Regions from separate parts of the Homo sapiens genome. Here region 2 is linked to region 1. A link means that fine-mapping ties the variant in region 1 to the expression of a gene that starts in the linked region. Tissue or cell type: whole blood. Region 1 holds a variant in brackets; the other region holds the start of a gene. All regions are shown on one strand. Distances are from middle to middle.

What was found. PIP is the estimated chance that this variant, and not a neighbour inherited with it, causes the effect.
Region 2: OR6N1 starts here. The variant in region 1 is fine-mapped to the expression of OR6N1 in whole blood (INTERVAL, PIP above 0.99).

Annotation. Positions count from the first base shown.
Region 1 is chr1:158,841,681-158,849,794 of GRCh38, reverse strand. MNDA (myeloid cell nuclear differentiation antigen) reads right to left here. Exons shown (of 7, transcript NM_002432.3): 2 at 7,377-7,661; 3 at 6,380-6,516; 4 at 5,673-5,840; 5 at 3,792-4,208; 6 at 1,879-2,067; 7 at 293-605. The coding sequence starts at 7,641. The coding sequence ends at 558. Among named protein-coding and RNA genes, the nearest start is that of MNDA, 14 kb to the right of the region's middle. The variant ACAAC/C (reference allele first, on the strand shown) is at 4,572.
Region 2 is chr1:158,767,554-158,775,667 of GRCh38, reverse strand. OR6N1 (olfactory receptor family 6 subfamily N member 1) reads left to right here and starts at 3,473. Exons shown (of 2, transcript NM_001005185.2): 1 at 3,473-3,647. OR6N2 (olfactory receptor family 6 subfamily N member 2) reads left to right here. Exons shown (of 2, transcript NM_001005278.2): 2 at 1-1,446.

The sequences.
Region 1 (8,114 bases):
CCCAACGGCCCCCTTCTGGAGGACACAGTTGCATAAAGGAATCCTTTCCTCTAGATCTGCTACTTCCCTAGGCCACAGTATTTGTTCATTTAAGCATGGGCTACATAAATTTAGTCACAGCCTTTACTGCGGACTTATCCTCTGAAGATCACAATATAGACTCCAATGTGGATAAGGCCCCATGTGTCTCTCCCCATCTCTAGAATGTGCTTCACAATGCACAAAGTACTCAGCCTCAAGCAGCTCACTATTGATCTTAACAGAACGTAGACAAGACTTTGGGAAAATAATGTCCTTCAAAAAAAGATATTTTATTTTTTGCCTCGTGAATGTCATAAAAGCAAAATGTAATATCTAAAAAAAAGGAAGAGTATAAGAAGAAAATTTTATTCCAGAAAGCAAACTAATCTATAACTCAGTTATAAAAGCTCTTAATATGCTAGAATATATCTACTGAAACATCATTTAAATGAATTACTGAAATTTACAAAATCACAGTTATTAACAACTTAATTGTTTTAAGCGGAAGTTGTTTGTTGCATTTCAGCTTTCATATTTCAATTAACATTCATTGGTCCTTCCTTGTTTTTCTTGGCCTTGATGACCTTTAAAGAGAGATAAGAAAGACATAATGAGACCCTAGATATTGAAATGAAGCTCTGCTTATAGTTCTCCTTTCACCTGCCATATCTTTTCTTCCCATTGGCTACATTATTCTCCTTATCCCCTATGAAAGCTCGTTAGTCACAAAGTTATGAAGATCTACCTTCAAAAAACTCATTTTCCCCCCATTAACTAATCTCTGTTTGTCTTTTTCCTTCCTGAATGGATTTTTGAAATAAACTTCTGTGGTATCCTGGTTAACCAACTACCCATTTTTTTTTAAAAGTTTCGATTTGTAACATTTGCAGAGTCTGGTGGCATACATATTTTCACATGGCTGATTTCAAACTACCACATGTTTAGCAAGCAGTGCATATAATTCCTGAATTTCCAACAGTAAGCTCTCTTCAGTAAGGATATGAGTGAATCCAGCACACAACTTCTAATAGATATCTCTGCCCCAAGCCTAATTGCTCTGTAATGCAACTCCATAGATAGACACCGGAATATTTTTTGCTAAAATATCAAAGTGATCAGGCATTCTTCTGCATAATTTTGTTTCAATTTTTCATGTATTTTCAACAATAAAGTTTCCATTAATTTACTTTTGAAAAAGCCACACTTCTATTTCTTTTTCATCTTTGGGCCTCAGTAGTCCCTTTTTTTTAATCTTTGGGTCCCACAGTCTTCTGCATCTACTGAATTTCAGTTGTACAGAACTCATTACGCTATGTCACACTTTTGGAATTTTCATGTATCATTTCCTTTGCCTAAAAGTCCCTCCAATTTTTACCTTCCTAAAAATAAAACTATCTACCACAGATCAGTTTATTATGATGTGCCAGGTTGTGAGATAATTAATATGTATACATTGTCTGAATGTTTAAACCATCCCAATGAAGTGGAGACTTCCATTATTTTAGAGGACCAATGAAACTGTTTCCCCAATATCAGCCAACTAGTGCTTCTTAAATCCAGGATTCAAATCAGATCTGTCTTATTCAGAACCCTTGCTCTTGAGCCCTATGTTCCCTGCCGCTAGACACATCTTTAAATCAATTAACACTAGTATTGTATCCTTTCTAGAGCTGTATGAATGCCTTTACCTTAATATCCTTCTGAAAATCTTCCAGTTACAAATGCAAGGGCATTGTTTAGGTTCTCCTTCCACTCGCTGGACTCTCTGAGTAATACATGAGGAACCTGGTGTTCCCAAAGCCTAAGCAAAATTATTTGCCTCTTTAGCAAACTCATTCTCCTCTATCCAGTTCCCACCTTGATGAAGCTGTGACTTCCACACACCAGTTTCAGCTTGCGGTCAACTGTTCTCAGTTGAAGGCAGAAGAGTCGAAGTTTATCTCCTTTCTCACACTTGATATTGTGCCATTTTCCACTCCCCACTACATCCATGGATCCTGTATTATCCTGTATTTCATAAATTGTGTTCTTCTTGTGTACGCTTTTCTGCAAAAGAAGATTAACATCCTGTTTCTGAGAGGATTGTTAGTATCATATAGATGAGAAAGAGTCTCATGACAAAGTTAATGCAATATGCACGACAGGAATGACAGGTACAGATCATACATGTGGCTTGGCCTGCCATCTCACAGGGTCCATCTTTTATTATCCAGCATTTTTTTTTCCTGCTTAAGGTATTTTTCTTTCTGCAATTATACAACAATAAATATTTCCCTCTTTTTCTCCTGCTACCACCTTCAGATCAGCTGAGAGTAAATAAAGCACCTAGATATAGAGGAATCAAAAATTCCTATAGAACTTCTTGGCTCATGGTCCTGTGGAAAAACAAATGTATGCTTTCTACAATTATTCATTCAGTAGATTATGAGGAATTTCACTTTATTATTATTTTAATTTTTAAAAATTTCAATAGCTTTTGGGGTACAAATGGTTTTGGGTTACATGGATTAATTATATGGCGGTGAATTCTGAGATTTTAGGGCAGCCATTACCCAAGTAGTGTACATTGTACCCAATATATAGTTTTGTATCCCTCACCTCCCTCCCAGCCTCCCGCTTCTGAGTCTTGAAAGTTTATTAGATCACTCTGTATGCCTTTGTGTACTCATAGCTTAGCTCCTCCTTACAAGTGAGAACATACAATATTTGGTTTTCCACTCCTGAGTTACTTCAGATTATGAGAAATTTTAAAGGAAAAATCTTCTATAACACAATCATTCATTCTTTCTCAGCCTTCCTCATTACTTATTCTTTTCCAATATCTTGTCCCCATTGACCTAACTCCCTCCATTCATACTCTGTAGTGTTTCACACACTTAAGCTATTACTCATCAATTCTGTAATTGCATTTATAAGCAAGATCTCTTAAAGAGAGTGTGAGAAAATGTGGAGGTAAATTTAAGGGGCTATATTGAAAGACATGTATGTAGGGTTATAAAGCAGTCAATCATATAAAATGTTAGTTGAGTTCATAGAAATGTGTAATGTTTTAGAGTGGAGAAAGGGATGGAATGCATTATCCTAACTAGCATCTTGAATTTGGACATGGACATATCAATAAAACTCTGTGCCTTGGAATTATTTTTTTTTTGTAAATAGTATGAAGAGATTGCCTTATCCTTTAAGTATCATGGAATTCAATATTTCTCAGTTGTTCAATGCTATCTTCATAAATAAATGAATAAATAAATAAGATAGAAGGGCAACTGATCTAAGCACAAATGTTTAGATTGTATGGATAGCTGTTGAATGTATTTGCATTTATGAGCATACCAGCCAATCCACTTATTACTCCAAAATTATGTCACAACCAGAATTCAACCTTGGTAGCACAATTCATTACTTAAAATAAATTTATCAAAACTCACAGTAAAATTATCAGTGCTCATTGGGATGGAGCTGAAAGAGATGATGTTATTAGCTTGCTCCCGTTGATTTGGACCCTGTATTGTCCTAGTTCATTGTGGCTGACAACAGATCATTACTGCCAATATTTCTTACTAACTTTTTTTCAAAGTCCCTACATTTATTTTGGCGTAAGAAAGTTAATAGGTCACTTAGTCCTATTTCCTATTTTGTGGGACAACTTCATCACTATCTCTAGTCAATATAAATTCTTGTGTTCCAATATTCAGACAGTAAGTCTGGCAAATTAAGACATTTATTTCCAGGTAATGGTAGAGAAAATTAAAACAAAATTAAGGGTTTACCTTTTGTAACATAAACAACCCATACACCATTGTTCCAGATGCTTGCTTGTAAAGTTGACTGATCTTGGGAGTTTTATTTGCTATTTCGATAATTCTGTTTGGGACCTCAAAATTTTGATTAAAGTCAGACACAGATGATGCTTCCTTTATTTCCATTACTCCTTTACATTCAGAGTAATCAGATATGGTAATGACCTTCTTCCTTACAAATTTCTCTTTCAAGTTGATGTCGAAGACTTTCACATGGAAATATTGAGTCTTACTGGCCACTGTAGCATGAAACATTGTGCTTTTCCCATTTTCTGGGGACTCGTATTTAAATGGCGCTGTTGCTTTCAGTACCACCACTGTCACTGGGTCGTTTTGGGGAACATTTCTTCTTGCATCCACCTGCCGTTGGGCCTGGGTTTCCTGATTCTGTGTTGGGCAGACACAAGAAAATAAACTTAAAACTTTGAGCAGGAGGCCGGGCGCGGTGGCTCACGCCTGTAATCCTAGCACTTTGGGAAGCCGAGGCGGGTGGATCACGAGGTCAGAAGATCGAGACCATCCTGGCTAACATGGTGAAACCCCCATCTCTACTAAAAATACAAAAAAAACTAGCCGGGCGTTGTAGCGGGCGTCTGTAGTCCCAGCTACTCGGGAGGCTGAGGCAGCAGAATGGCATGAACCTGGGAGGCGGAGCTTGCAGTGAGACCAGATCGCACCACTGCACTCCAGCCTGGGCGATAGAGCGAGACTCCGTCTCAAAAACAAACAAACAAACAAACAAACAAACAA[ACAAC/C]AACAAAAACTTTGAGCAGGAATACAAAGTCACTCTGCACGAGTGACTCTGCAGAGCTTTCGACCCAACAACTTTCACAGATATTTGGAGCTGGGGGCTAGGCTAGACAGGGATTACTGAACAGAAAGGAAAGGCACATGAGCTGGTAAAGTTTAGCTACTGAAAGCCTAAGGTAACAGACAACAGGCTTGGAAATTAAATCACCCTCATTGACTCAGAATAATCTTCCTGAAGCAAAGCATGATCTTCTGCATGAACAATCTAGAGTAGCAGATGATGAAAACATTGTTGTGAAGAAACTTTAAAGAAAGATTAGAATATAATAACAAATCCAAATATCTCCTCTACCTACTGAAATTATCAAAGACAATCAACAAAGTGAAAACAACTTGGACAGCATTAAAAATGAAGAACCATGCCCACCAGAAGCCTCAAACATCATTAGATGTTCTAATGATCAAACATTCATTAGAAATTCTAATGATCACTAGTGTACTCTGCCATTTTGAGGGCCAAACTCGTTTGTTTCTTCCCAAGAAACAGTGCTTTTACAAGTGGAAAGACTTGGCCTGGCTAGCATGTAAGTAGTCTCAGGTAGAGGATTTCTGGTTAGAGCTATGTCCTCGACTGTGTATACACAGCATTTCACAGTGGCTAAAATGCTAACAACAATGGAAAAAGGACAAGTTTGTTTATCTCGTATGTCCTCTCTCCACAGTGTCCTGGCCTATTTGAGTTGCAGCAGAATACTTTTCTGAAGAGAACGTTGGCAGATCTGTAATAGGAAGTGTGGGGAGCAAAGATGAGCCATGGGCTTGTATGTACTGGTACTAGGAGCCAGGCTACTTACCTGCACAGACCAGAAATGCTTAGTGGTCTGTCCTGGTGTTTTACACACAGTGATTACCTGTAGGTAATTGGACTTTACTTGCATGTGGCTTCTCACCAATGTAAACAAGTTATCATAATATGGAAAACAGTTTTCCCACAGCAAATCAGTAATATGAAGAGTTATGCATGAGAGTAACAATAGTAACAGTGGAATGCACTGTGACTGGGTTAAAAAAAAATGGAGAAGAGGACCAGGAAGAGTGTACCGGAGTAAACGAAGTGTTGGATGGAGTTGATGATGAGGTCTGGGGTAGTGGGGGATGATCCACAGCTGCAGATGTGCTGGCTCCTGAGGGACCTGGGGGCTTACTCTGCTCTTGGGACACCTTATTCCTTTTGGCTTCAGTCTTTTCTTTGTTTGGAGTTTTTCTTTTCTGAAAGTAGTTTAATTTTCCTGTTAATGGAGTTTAGTATCAAAAGAAGCAGAGCAAGTTTTCATTTTTTCATTACAACATAGTAAGTTCTATTTATGTTGGATGGGATGTCCTTGGAAACCCCAGGGAATTACAATCTGTCACTTGAAGATATGGACAATAGATAATATTGGGCATAGATTGTTGCACTAAAAAGGAGATGGATGATTTCAACAGATGCATTACTGTTATCACCACTGTGGTGTGATGAGAAGAGCACTGGACTTGGAATGAGAAAATCTAGATTTGTGTAAGGATGGGCAAGATGTATATCCAATATGATTATTACCCCATTTTTATAATGGAGATGATAATATATTTATGTCACAGAAATTTTTTATTACATTTTTACGATACCTAACTCTTTACTCATCACAAAGAAGATCCATAATTACTAATTTGGTAAATCTAAGCTGTGTTGAGATATTAGTAAAGAGCCACGTGCCATAGCAGAGTATCTTCTGTGAGGCTTCAGTCCTGCTCCTCTTTCTCAAGCTTACCTGAGCTACAGGAATCCTCCCTCTTGCTTCCGATGTCAGTTTGTTTCTTGCGGTGGGTGCAGGTGCCGCAAGACCCACTTCTTCCTGGTTTATTTTTTTCACTGGAGCTTTTTCTTGTGTTTTAATTTTCTTAGCAACTGACAAAAGAAAAGAAAAAGGGCACAATAGGCCTAGAGTGGAATAGCTTATCTAAGACAGCTGAGGCAGTTTCAATATTACCTGCTGTCAGCTCCTGCATGAGAGTTCGGATTTGCCTGTTACCTCTACTGCATTAACCCAGCCTGGCTCCTAGGAGGCCAACAGCAGCATGGTAGGCATAGGCACTGTCTCATTCTCCTCAGTGCTTTACTCACTCCTCCCCTTTGCAGTGAGAACATGCTTCCTTTCCTGTGAACTCCATGTGCCTCAATCAACCCTTTCTCAGTCTTGTTCTCCTACCATTTCTTTTAAATATCTAAGGCTTTCATGATGCTGACAGGCTGGTCATGTTCTGTGCAATATCTGTTCAAATGACAGAAATATGACCTGAAAGGAAATATGATCTGAATTGTAATGTGGCAAAGTGCTAATATTGGCTTTTGAATTAAAAAAAGAACAGTGATTTATTAAGTGGAAAAATTCTACACGTCTCTTAATAGAACTATTGCTGCATAAATTGGTTAAATATAAATATTTCAAATAAAACACATTTTTTAAAGTAGCTTTTTTTTTCATTTTCTGACATTTTTGATTTACTGAAACACTCACCGTCTCATAAATCCCTGTCTTTGGTTTTTTATCCTTACCTCAAATACATTCTTCTAAATATATCAATCTCTTTCATATGAAACAGAATGTTCTAAATTGCCAACTGGTCAGTCTCTGAGGTGCCAACATCCCCATGACTGCTGAGTTATAAATTGGAAAAGGGATGTACCAGCTATGACCAAGGTGGGGTTCTACTGAAGACTGGGGAGACTCAAGGCAGAGTAGCTATGTGCAAGGTTTTCTCTATTACCTTTTGACTTCTCTTTTCGAAGATTGTTAACAAGGTTTTTAAGTGATGGCATATCTTTGGCAAGTTCTATTAGTTTGTCTAGACAGGCAACGCCTTGGAACTTTTTTTCCATCAAATCTGTAATCTTAATTCTGTTGTATTCCTCTTGCATTTTTGTAGTTAGTCCTAAATCATAGGCCAGTAAGGACTTAATTGATGTAAAATGATAATCATCCATGAGCTCAAATCCTTTCAGCAAAAGAATTTTCTTGTATTCATTCACCATTTCTGATGTTATAGCTTGGCCTATAAAGTAAAAATGACACACAACATTACACATTTATGCAGACAATTTTAAAAAATGAGATATGCTTTTGTGAGTGAGTGTCCCAGGCCAAAATGTTGTCCTTGGATGCGTATAAGAAAAAGGGACTAAGTTACCAGATATGTCACTGTGAACAATGGATCAAGACTTGCTTTATTAGGAGGTTCAGTGAAGTTCTTCCCTTTTAATGTTGATAAGTTGGGACAGAGGTGTATGTGGTGAAATGATGTTTGGAAACAGGTAATTGTTGCAGTATTTATAGTATGGGTTTTGTGGTGTCAAAGTCCCTGGTTCCTCTTCTGATATTTTATTGGGGCCTGAGCCTATCCCTCAATGCCTACCTCTTGGTTCCTGATTCTTCCCTGATTCTTCCCTGATTCTTCCTGGTCATCCACTATGACCAAAGTGGCCTAAGTATAAATGGGCTGCAGCCA
Region 2 (8,114 bases), 74 kb after region 1:
TCTCAATTGGATTAATGTAATAATATTCTACCCATGCTCCTTTCTCCTACTCTCATTCTATTCTAATATATTTTCCACATAAAATATAAAGTAATGTATTTGAAATCTGAATTGTATATACCATTTTATAAAAACATGAGAAATTCTCAATTGCCCTTAAGATAAAATTCAAAGCCTCACCATACTTTATAAGGCTATAAACGGAATTCTTCCCTGCCTTCCTCTTCAACATAGATTCATACCTCTACTCCCTCAGCTCCCTCTTTCCTAGCTACATGATTACTCTTTCAGGTCTTCAAATACATTATGGATTTTTCTGGCTTCAGGATCTTCACTCCGTTTTTTCCCCAACATTTCATTTGGTTCACTCCTCCTAATTGTGTGATTTTCTGTTCAAATATCAATTTCCAGTGATGCTAGCTTTGAGAGGACTTCTGAACACTCAGTCTAATTTATGTCACTCATTTTTATCTCTGAAGTATGTTTTGCTTCTCTTCAAAATATGTATGGCAATTTATGTGTTTGTGGACATTTATGTATATATACATAGATATAGTTTGTCATTCTTTCCTACAAGTATCTATAAACTAGATTTGGTCTCAAATTATTTCAGATTTTTTATTTGTTGTGTGTCCAGAAACTAACACAGCACCTAAATAGGATGAGTATTCAATGCAATCGTAATGAATGAAACATGTGATGAATTTTACCCACACCTGGTCAATAATATATTTGGCCTTTAACAATGACATAATGATTCTAATCATTACTGAAACCCACTGTTCTATAGAATGCATCGGTCTTCCCTATTTGTACTCACCAGTTTTCTGCACATCCCACCTCAACTTGTCTCACATCTGCCTTTTGAATTTCCTTGGATAATACTGGTAACTAGTCCTTGCTTAGCTACTGTGCATCATACTAGGTTAATTTTCTGGATCTGTATTTTTTTTTTTCACTCACAAACTTTGGTGGGCATGTAAGCTATCCCTAGATAATATTCATTTTTAACATGATATGGTTATGCGTAAACATAAATTTTCATGTCATTTGGGAAAATGCATAAGTATAGGATTGCTAGGTCACACGATAAATGTATGTTTATAATTAGCTGTCTAACTGTTTTCCAAAGACTAGTGCTTTTTGGGTCCCTCCGCTGTGGTACAATGTGGGGCATGTGTAGTGAGAGTTCATTCAGCCTGGGCAGCTTTCCTGAGCTGTGGGAATGGGCTTGTGATGAACCCCAGGCTTCTGTTTCTCATTGCTGCATGTCTATGAGTAACAAATCTGCTTTTCTTGATTTGTTGTGTGTTTTATCTCAGCAGGTTCATGAACTAGGTAGAGAACCTTTGCATATATATGTATGTCCTTTTCTCCAAATCCTCCCTGCTGTCATCCGCACTATTTTATCATATATTTTTGTAAAATAAACACACAGTACATTGCTACTATTTTTGCTATATACAGTCATTTTCTGTAAACAGTGGCGGTAAAAGACATTGCAAGAGGGAGAGAGGTTAGTGAGTACTGAGGAAGTCAATGGAGCTGCAGTTTCAAGAAATGTGATACCATAAAAAAGACAGGCAGTTACGTGCTGAAGTCTGCTCATAGTTTTTGGGAAATGATTGACAACTTATTAGAAATTCTGTGGAACCAATAGCTTGGAATCAGATACAGTGGGAGTATTAGCACTATGCCAATCAGCAAATGTTATAAATCAGGAGCTTTTTAAAAATGGCAGGCTATCTCAAAGCTAAACAATGCAGGCACTAAAGTGGTAAGGACAGATTTAATCAGTAATATACAAATATACAAATATATATACACACACAAAAACACACACACATACACACACATAGACATAAATTATTTTGGTAGCCTTGAATTTTCTCAGGCAGGCACTTAAAGAGGTGCTAGGATAGACTATGGCCTTGAGTTCTTAGAAACTATGTTAGTGTTTGTTTAAGTCTTTTAATACATGTGGTGGGGGAGGGAAGATGGGGAGGGTGGATGAAATCATTTTTGCTGACAGTCTATAGATTTTGTAAGCCAAGGCTGAGGTTTAGTCAAAAAGAGAACTAGAGTTCAATGAAATTGAGAATCTTTGTTAGAGGAGTCAGTTGTTAAACATTTACCCCAACACATATAGAGACAGAATATCATTTGGAGGGGAGGGTAGCAGAATTGATGGATATATTTTAGGAATAGAGGATATTCTAGTTCACAGAAAAGAAGTAATTGAAATGAAACTGACAGATGTGGAAAATTTAATTTAAAAGGTAGTGGGTATTTAACTCTTAATTGCCTTATAGGGATTTAGAAAACCTGAATAAACCTCTAGTCATTAAGTAAATAAAATTATTACTTAAACTCTACGTATACTAGTCAAAAAACAAAATAATACTTTGACTCAAAAATTAAGTTATTAGTTAAATATCTATTTACCACAAACAAAATATTAAATACTGGCAACTCAGTTTGAAAAAAAAAAATCTTCCAGAAATAAATTAGGAGATAGAAAAATATAAACTTTGATGAAGAATATTGAAAGTGTGGGTGGGATGGAGAAAGTGACAAAAATTATTTAATTCTTCTCATAGTTCATATTATAGTTTGTAAGTACTTTTTTTTACATTATCACATTTGATTATTAATTTTATCTGAGGAAAGTAAATCTTCCTTATACTTTTTAAATTTTTTATCTGACAAATAATTATATATGTGATGTTTTGATACATGTATGCAGAGTAGAATGATCAAATTAGGCTAATTAACATATTTATCACCTCACATATAGTACTTATCATTTTTATTTTGTGGCAAGAGTATTCAAAATCCACCCTTCTGGCAATATTGCCAACCATGGCTCAGTGAGGTGCCTAATGTCTCATAAGTATTTGGAAGAATGGCTGGGATTGTATCCAAGATTCTGAAGCAGCACTCTTTACGGAGCAGATAACACTAGAGTAGAGAGGAGACTGCAGTGTGTAAGACAACATATAACGGCTATAAATATGAGCAACAGACAAGATTAGGAGTCGGTCTTGATGATATTTATGTCCCCAGTGTCTCCCTGTCCTCACCCTTTCAGGGTCAAAGAAGGTCAGTCAAATTTTATAAAGATCCTATCATAATTGAAAGTTGTATGCTTACTCCCAAGTCATGCAGTACAGGAACCCATTTGAACCTAGTTTTCACACCAGTTATTGTTATTTACTAAAGGAAGTAATTGCCTTGAGACATGTTCTATCTCAACTTGGACTGGTAGTTATTGTTGTAGTAACTAATAGGTAATGAAGGACTACTGGCTAATGAACTTGCTGTATGTCAGTTCCCTTCCTGAGAGAGCACTTTAGTGACCCCAGGAGGTCTGCTCAGAAGGCCCATGGGCTTCTGCCTCTATGAGGTCCCTATCAAGAATCCAGGTTTTATGGGAGAAGAATTTGTTTTATGGTTTAACTTATTCCCACAGGTTCCATCAAAGTGATAAACTTCAACCCCTCCAGGCCCCGGGAATGGCTGGGTATAATACTGCAAATGAGACATAGGAAGTATACAGGAAGTTCTCTTCAAACTTCGGACTCCGAGCAGTGGCTGGGCTTCCAGAGTCAAGCTCTAGCAGAGCACTCCCCACCAACAATCTCTAGGTAAGACTTTATCAAGCAGGCATTTTCATCTTCACATTCCTTCTTAGTCTGATCACTAAGAGACCTAGAGGATTCAGAAATATGGAGAGGTTTTTGAATAATCAGGGTCCATAAAACACATAATTGAAACACAGAAACTATTTTTAAAAACAGATATTCTGCTTTTCAAATGCTATAGTGAAGAGTCTGGCTTCAAAATTAGTAAATTGGCTATATTTTTAACTAACTGTGTAAACTGGAACAAGTCTTCTCCCCTTTCTGGATCCCAGTTTTTGTTGTTTGTTTGTTTGTTTCGTTTTTTAAATGAAGACGTTGAGTGTGATAATCTCTAAAATTGCATCTCCCTTCTTACCCCCAGATCTTTGGCCCTATGCCTAAACAATTATGAACTATGAATAATGCAGCTGTGGTATCTGAAGAAAAGAATGCAAGGCATATATTCTAAAAGCTTTCTAGAATTAGGGGAATAAACTATGATTTCAATGGACCTAAGTAAGATAAATGTAAATTTGTATATGTGGTAGGTTTTATGAGAGCCCTGATTCCAATATCAGGAATAGGAGTAGATGAGTAACTGATGAGCTAAAGAGCTGCACAAGTCATCTCAATTGCCCTCTTTTTCATTACCCACCATAACTCGGATATATCAGGCATTGTGCTAAGTACTCTAGGAGGTAGGACATGGTATGAAGTTTCCTCATTAATTTCAAAAAGCTCACAGAGAGTTGCCTTGGAGTGATAAGACATATGCCTGGAAAATAATTGCAGTGCATTACAGGATATAATTGGAGGGACAGTGAGAAAGTACTACTGAGAATTTAGAAGTGTGAAAGAACAGTATTTAACTTAGATGGTCAGGGAAAAAAATGACAGACTTGAGCTAGAAAATGATTCAAGTGTCTTCAGATTGACAAAAGATAAAGCATATTTTTAGTGAGGGTACACTGCAAACAAAGGAGTCTGGGCTAAATACAGAAACCCACTTGGCAAACATTGAAATTGCTATAATGGTGATGAAAAGAATGTTTGAACACATGACTCTGGACCAGAGCAATAGGGTTGTTTCACAGAGCAAAACAAAGAATAATGGTGAAAGCCAGGTTTCTGGTCATTGGAAAGGACAGTTGTAAACTAAAACATTTCAAAAATGGAGAGAACTGTCTTATGGGTCAGGAAGCTTCCAGTGCTGTAAATCCAGGCAGAGGGTTGATGCCCATTTGTGGCGATATGGATTCCTTTATGAGTGAGAAGATATGAGTTTTTGCTGGGCTGAATCAAAATTAGAAACATAAGTACAAATATGAAGTTTGATACACATGATTTATCCTTCTATTTTAGCCTTCCTTTTTGTGATATTTAAAGGTTTTTTCTTTTTATGAGCTGTTGGAAATATATAATACATTTCAGATATTCCAACAATCCAGTGAAATCCAAAATTATGGGGGCCACTGGAAAGTGATAGTTCCTAAAGCTTCTCTCAACACTAAATTAAGGTTTATCAGTACTAGCAGTTACAATCATAATTAGAAATAATAAAATAAATTTTTTAAAAAGGGAAAATCATCAGTATTTTTTGCCATCTTAAAGGGGGTGTGAAAAAGAGAAGGAAATGGTCCAAACCTCTGAGAACTGTGAACTTGGAAGATGAGGGAGTTGGGGGTGCTAGTTTTCCGTGGAAAATAATAATACTTGATCGGATCCTGATGACTTTGATTGCTTAGGCAGAGTATGGAGGGAGTGAACAACAGCAGGTCATTAATGAGTGATGATACAATGTATAGTGTGATAATAAGTCTTTGGAGTTATGTGGAAACTCTACCTTCTGAGAAAGGAGACGACAAAATACTGGCTTCTCATATTCAATCTTCTGACCAGCCATCCATGTAGATCTGAAAATTTAGTTAAGGGCTCACAGTCTAGACAACTCATCTGTGAGTGGGACTGGAGGCCAGAAAAGGAAAGAGGCAGCTCTAGAATAGAACCTTTTATTTATATTTAGAAGGGAAGGAATATAGAACATCTAGAAAACAAGGGTCTGAGAAGAAGTAGAAATTTAGGGATAATCCTTTATAGAAGGCAGGTATGCATTCAAGACTTGAAGAAAACAGAAGGCAGAATTGGGCAGTGGATAGACATGGATATGCGGTGAGAAAAACTAAGACAAAGAAATTTTGGATAATAAAGTAATTATTCTGAAGCAAAATCACCCATATAAAAGTTTGGCCCGGAAGTAGTTCTCTGGAATCTAAGTAGAGAAACATCCTATATTAAGTCTTGGATTGAGAAAGGCTTTTGTATATGGGATGGACATGCTCCCTAGGTTTAGAAAAATGCCAAGAAAAATCAGAGTAAACAAAGTTAGTTTGGATGAATTTCAGGATCCTGGAGAGGGAAGAAGTGATAAGAAGACCGGAGGGCAGAAGGAGAAGACTCGGTGTCTTTCATAACTCTCTGCCTTTGCACAGGCAGTTCCATTTGCTTCAAATACTTTTTATTTCATTTTTCCATCTAAAAAATTCTGACAGTTTCTTCACTTCAAATAAAAATTATATCTTCTGGCAAAGCATGGTGACTTATGCCTGTAATCCCAGCACTTTTAGAGGCCAAAGCAGGTGGATCACTTGAGCCCAGGAGTTCAAGACCAGCCTGGGCAATATGGCTAAACCCCATCTCTACCAAAAACACAAAAATTAGCCAGGCGTGGTGGTGCACGTTTGTAGTCCCAGCTACTTGTGGGGTGGAGGTGGGAGGATTGCTTGAGCCCAGGAGGTCAAGGCTACAGTGAGCAGAGATCCTGCCACTGCACTCCAGGCTGGGTGATAGAGTGAGATGCTGTCTCCAATAATAATAATAATAATAAATTATGTGTTCTATGAAATTTTCCTGATTTATCTCCATATCCAGCCCATGGCTTGTAACTCCTACTGCATATGCAAATTAGCAGTTATCTTAATAGATTTGCATATTAATTACATAAATATTTATTGAGTTGTAACTATATTTCAGACATGGCTCTAGGCACTTGACATACACCAGTAAACAAAATAGAAAAGAAAAAAATCTTTGCCCTTAAGGAACTTATAATCAAAGAGGAGAGAACCAATAAACAATAGGAATAAGAAATAAGTACATTTTACAGGTTAGAACATGACAAGTCCTCTGGAAAAAAAGTTAAAAATTAAGTAGAGAAAGGCAATAGCAGTACAGAATATGGATGTAAGGATGGAGGCACACTGCAGTTATATAGGGTGGCCCAGGTAGTTGAGCTGGTGAAATTTGAGCAAAGATGAAATAAATGAAAGAGCTATCCAAATGGTGAAAGAGATTCTAGAACAAGGAAAGAGCTACAGCAAAGGTTTTAAATGATATGTCACTGAACACATTTGATCGATGGAAACGCAGAACCTAATTTAGAATTTAACAGGATCACTCTGGTGTGTTGAGATGAGGCTACAAGTGAACAAATGCAAGTAGGGAGATCTGTTAGGAGTCAATTACAGTAAGAGGGGAGAGATAAAAGTGACTTGGACCGAGGTGGTCAAACATAGTCAGTTCCTGGATATATGAGAGAAAGATAGAAACAAGGATGACTGCAGGAGTTTAGCTTGTCAGTTGAAAGATTGCAATTGCCATCATTTGTGATGGGGAAGACTAGGGGTAGAGACCCCAGGAGTTCAGTTTGAGATGGCTCTTCGACTCCCAAGAGGAGATGTGAGTAGGCAGTGAAATATATGAGTCTGGAGTAGCAGAGAAAAATATCGCCTGAGATATGGATTTAGATGTCTTCAACACATTTATAGTGTTTAAAGCTCTGGTATTGGATGGTATAGAGCAGAGGAGTTGAGTTTATATAGAAGAGAAAAAAAAAAGATTAAACACTGACCATGGGCACTGTGACATTAAAAGGATGGGGCATGGAGGAGAAACTAAAGTTGGAGAATGAGAAGGAATGACTAATAAGATAGAAAGTAACCAAAAGTATAGTACCCCGAGAATCAAGTCAAGGAAGTGTGTGAACAGGCTGGATAAATCAATACTGTCAAGAAACAGATAGTCCAAGTAAGCTGAGGAATGAGAAATGACCATTGGATCCAGGAAATCTTAGATAATTAATGTCTATGAGAAAGGAGGTTTTAATGGAGTGGTGGTAGTATAAATCTAATTAGAGTGGGTTTAAGAAGAAACTTAAAGAGAGGCATTAAAGGCAATGCGTATAGCCGACTCTTGGAAGAGTTTTCTTTTAGGGACATAGAAAGAAATAGAGCAGTGGCTGTGGGATGAGTAAAGAGAAAGAATTTAAGGCTCTTGCTTTTTTGTTTGTTTAGTAGATGAGAATAATAGCATGTTTTTACATTGATAGAGTATTCCATGAAAGAGCTGTATAATAGTTAGTTGTTTCTCTATACTCTGTATTACAATATTAGTTTGTTAACATCAGGTGCCACATTTTATTTGTTTAGTCCCTGT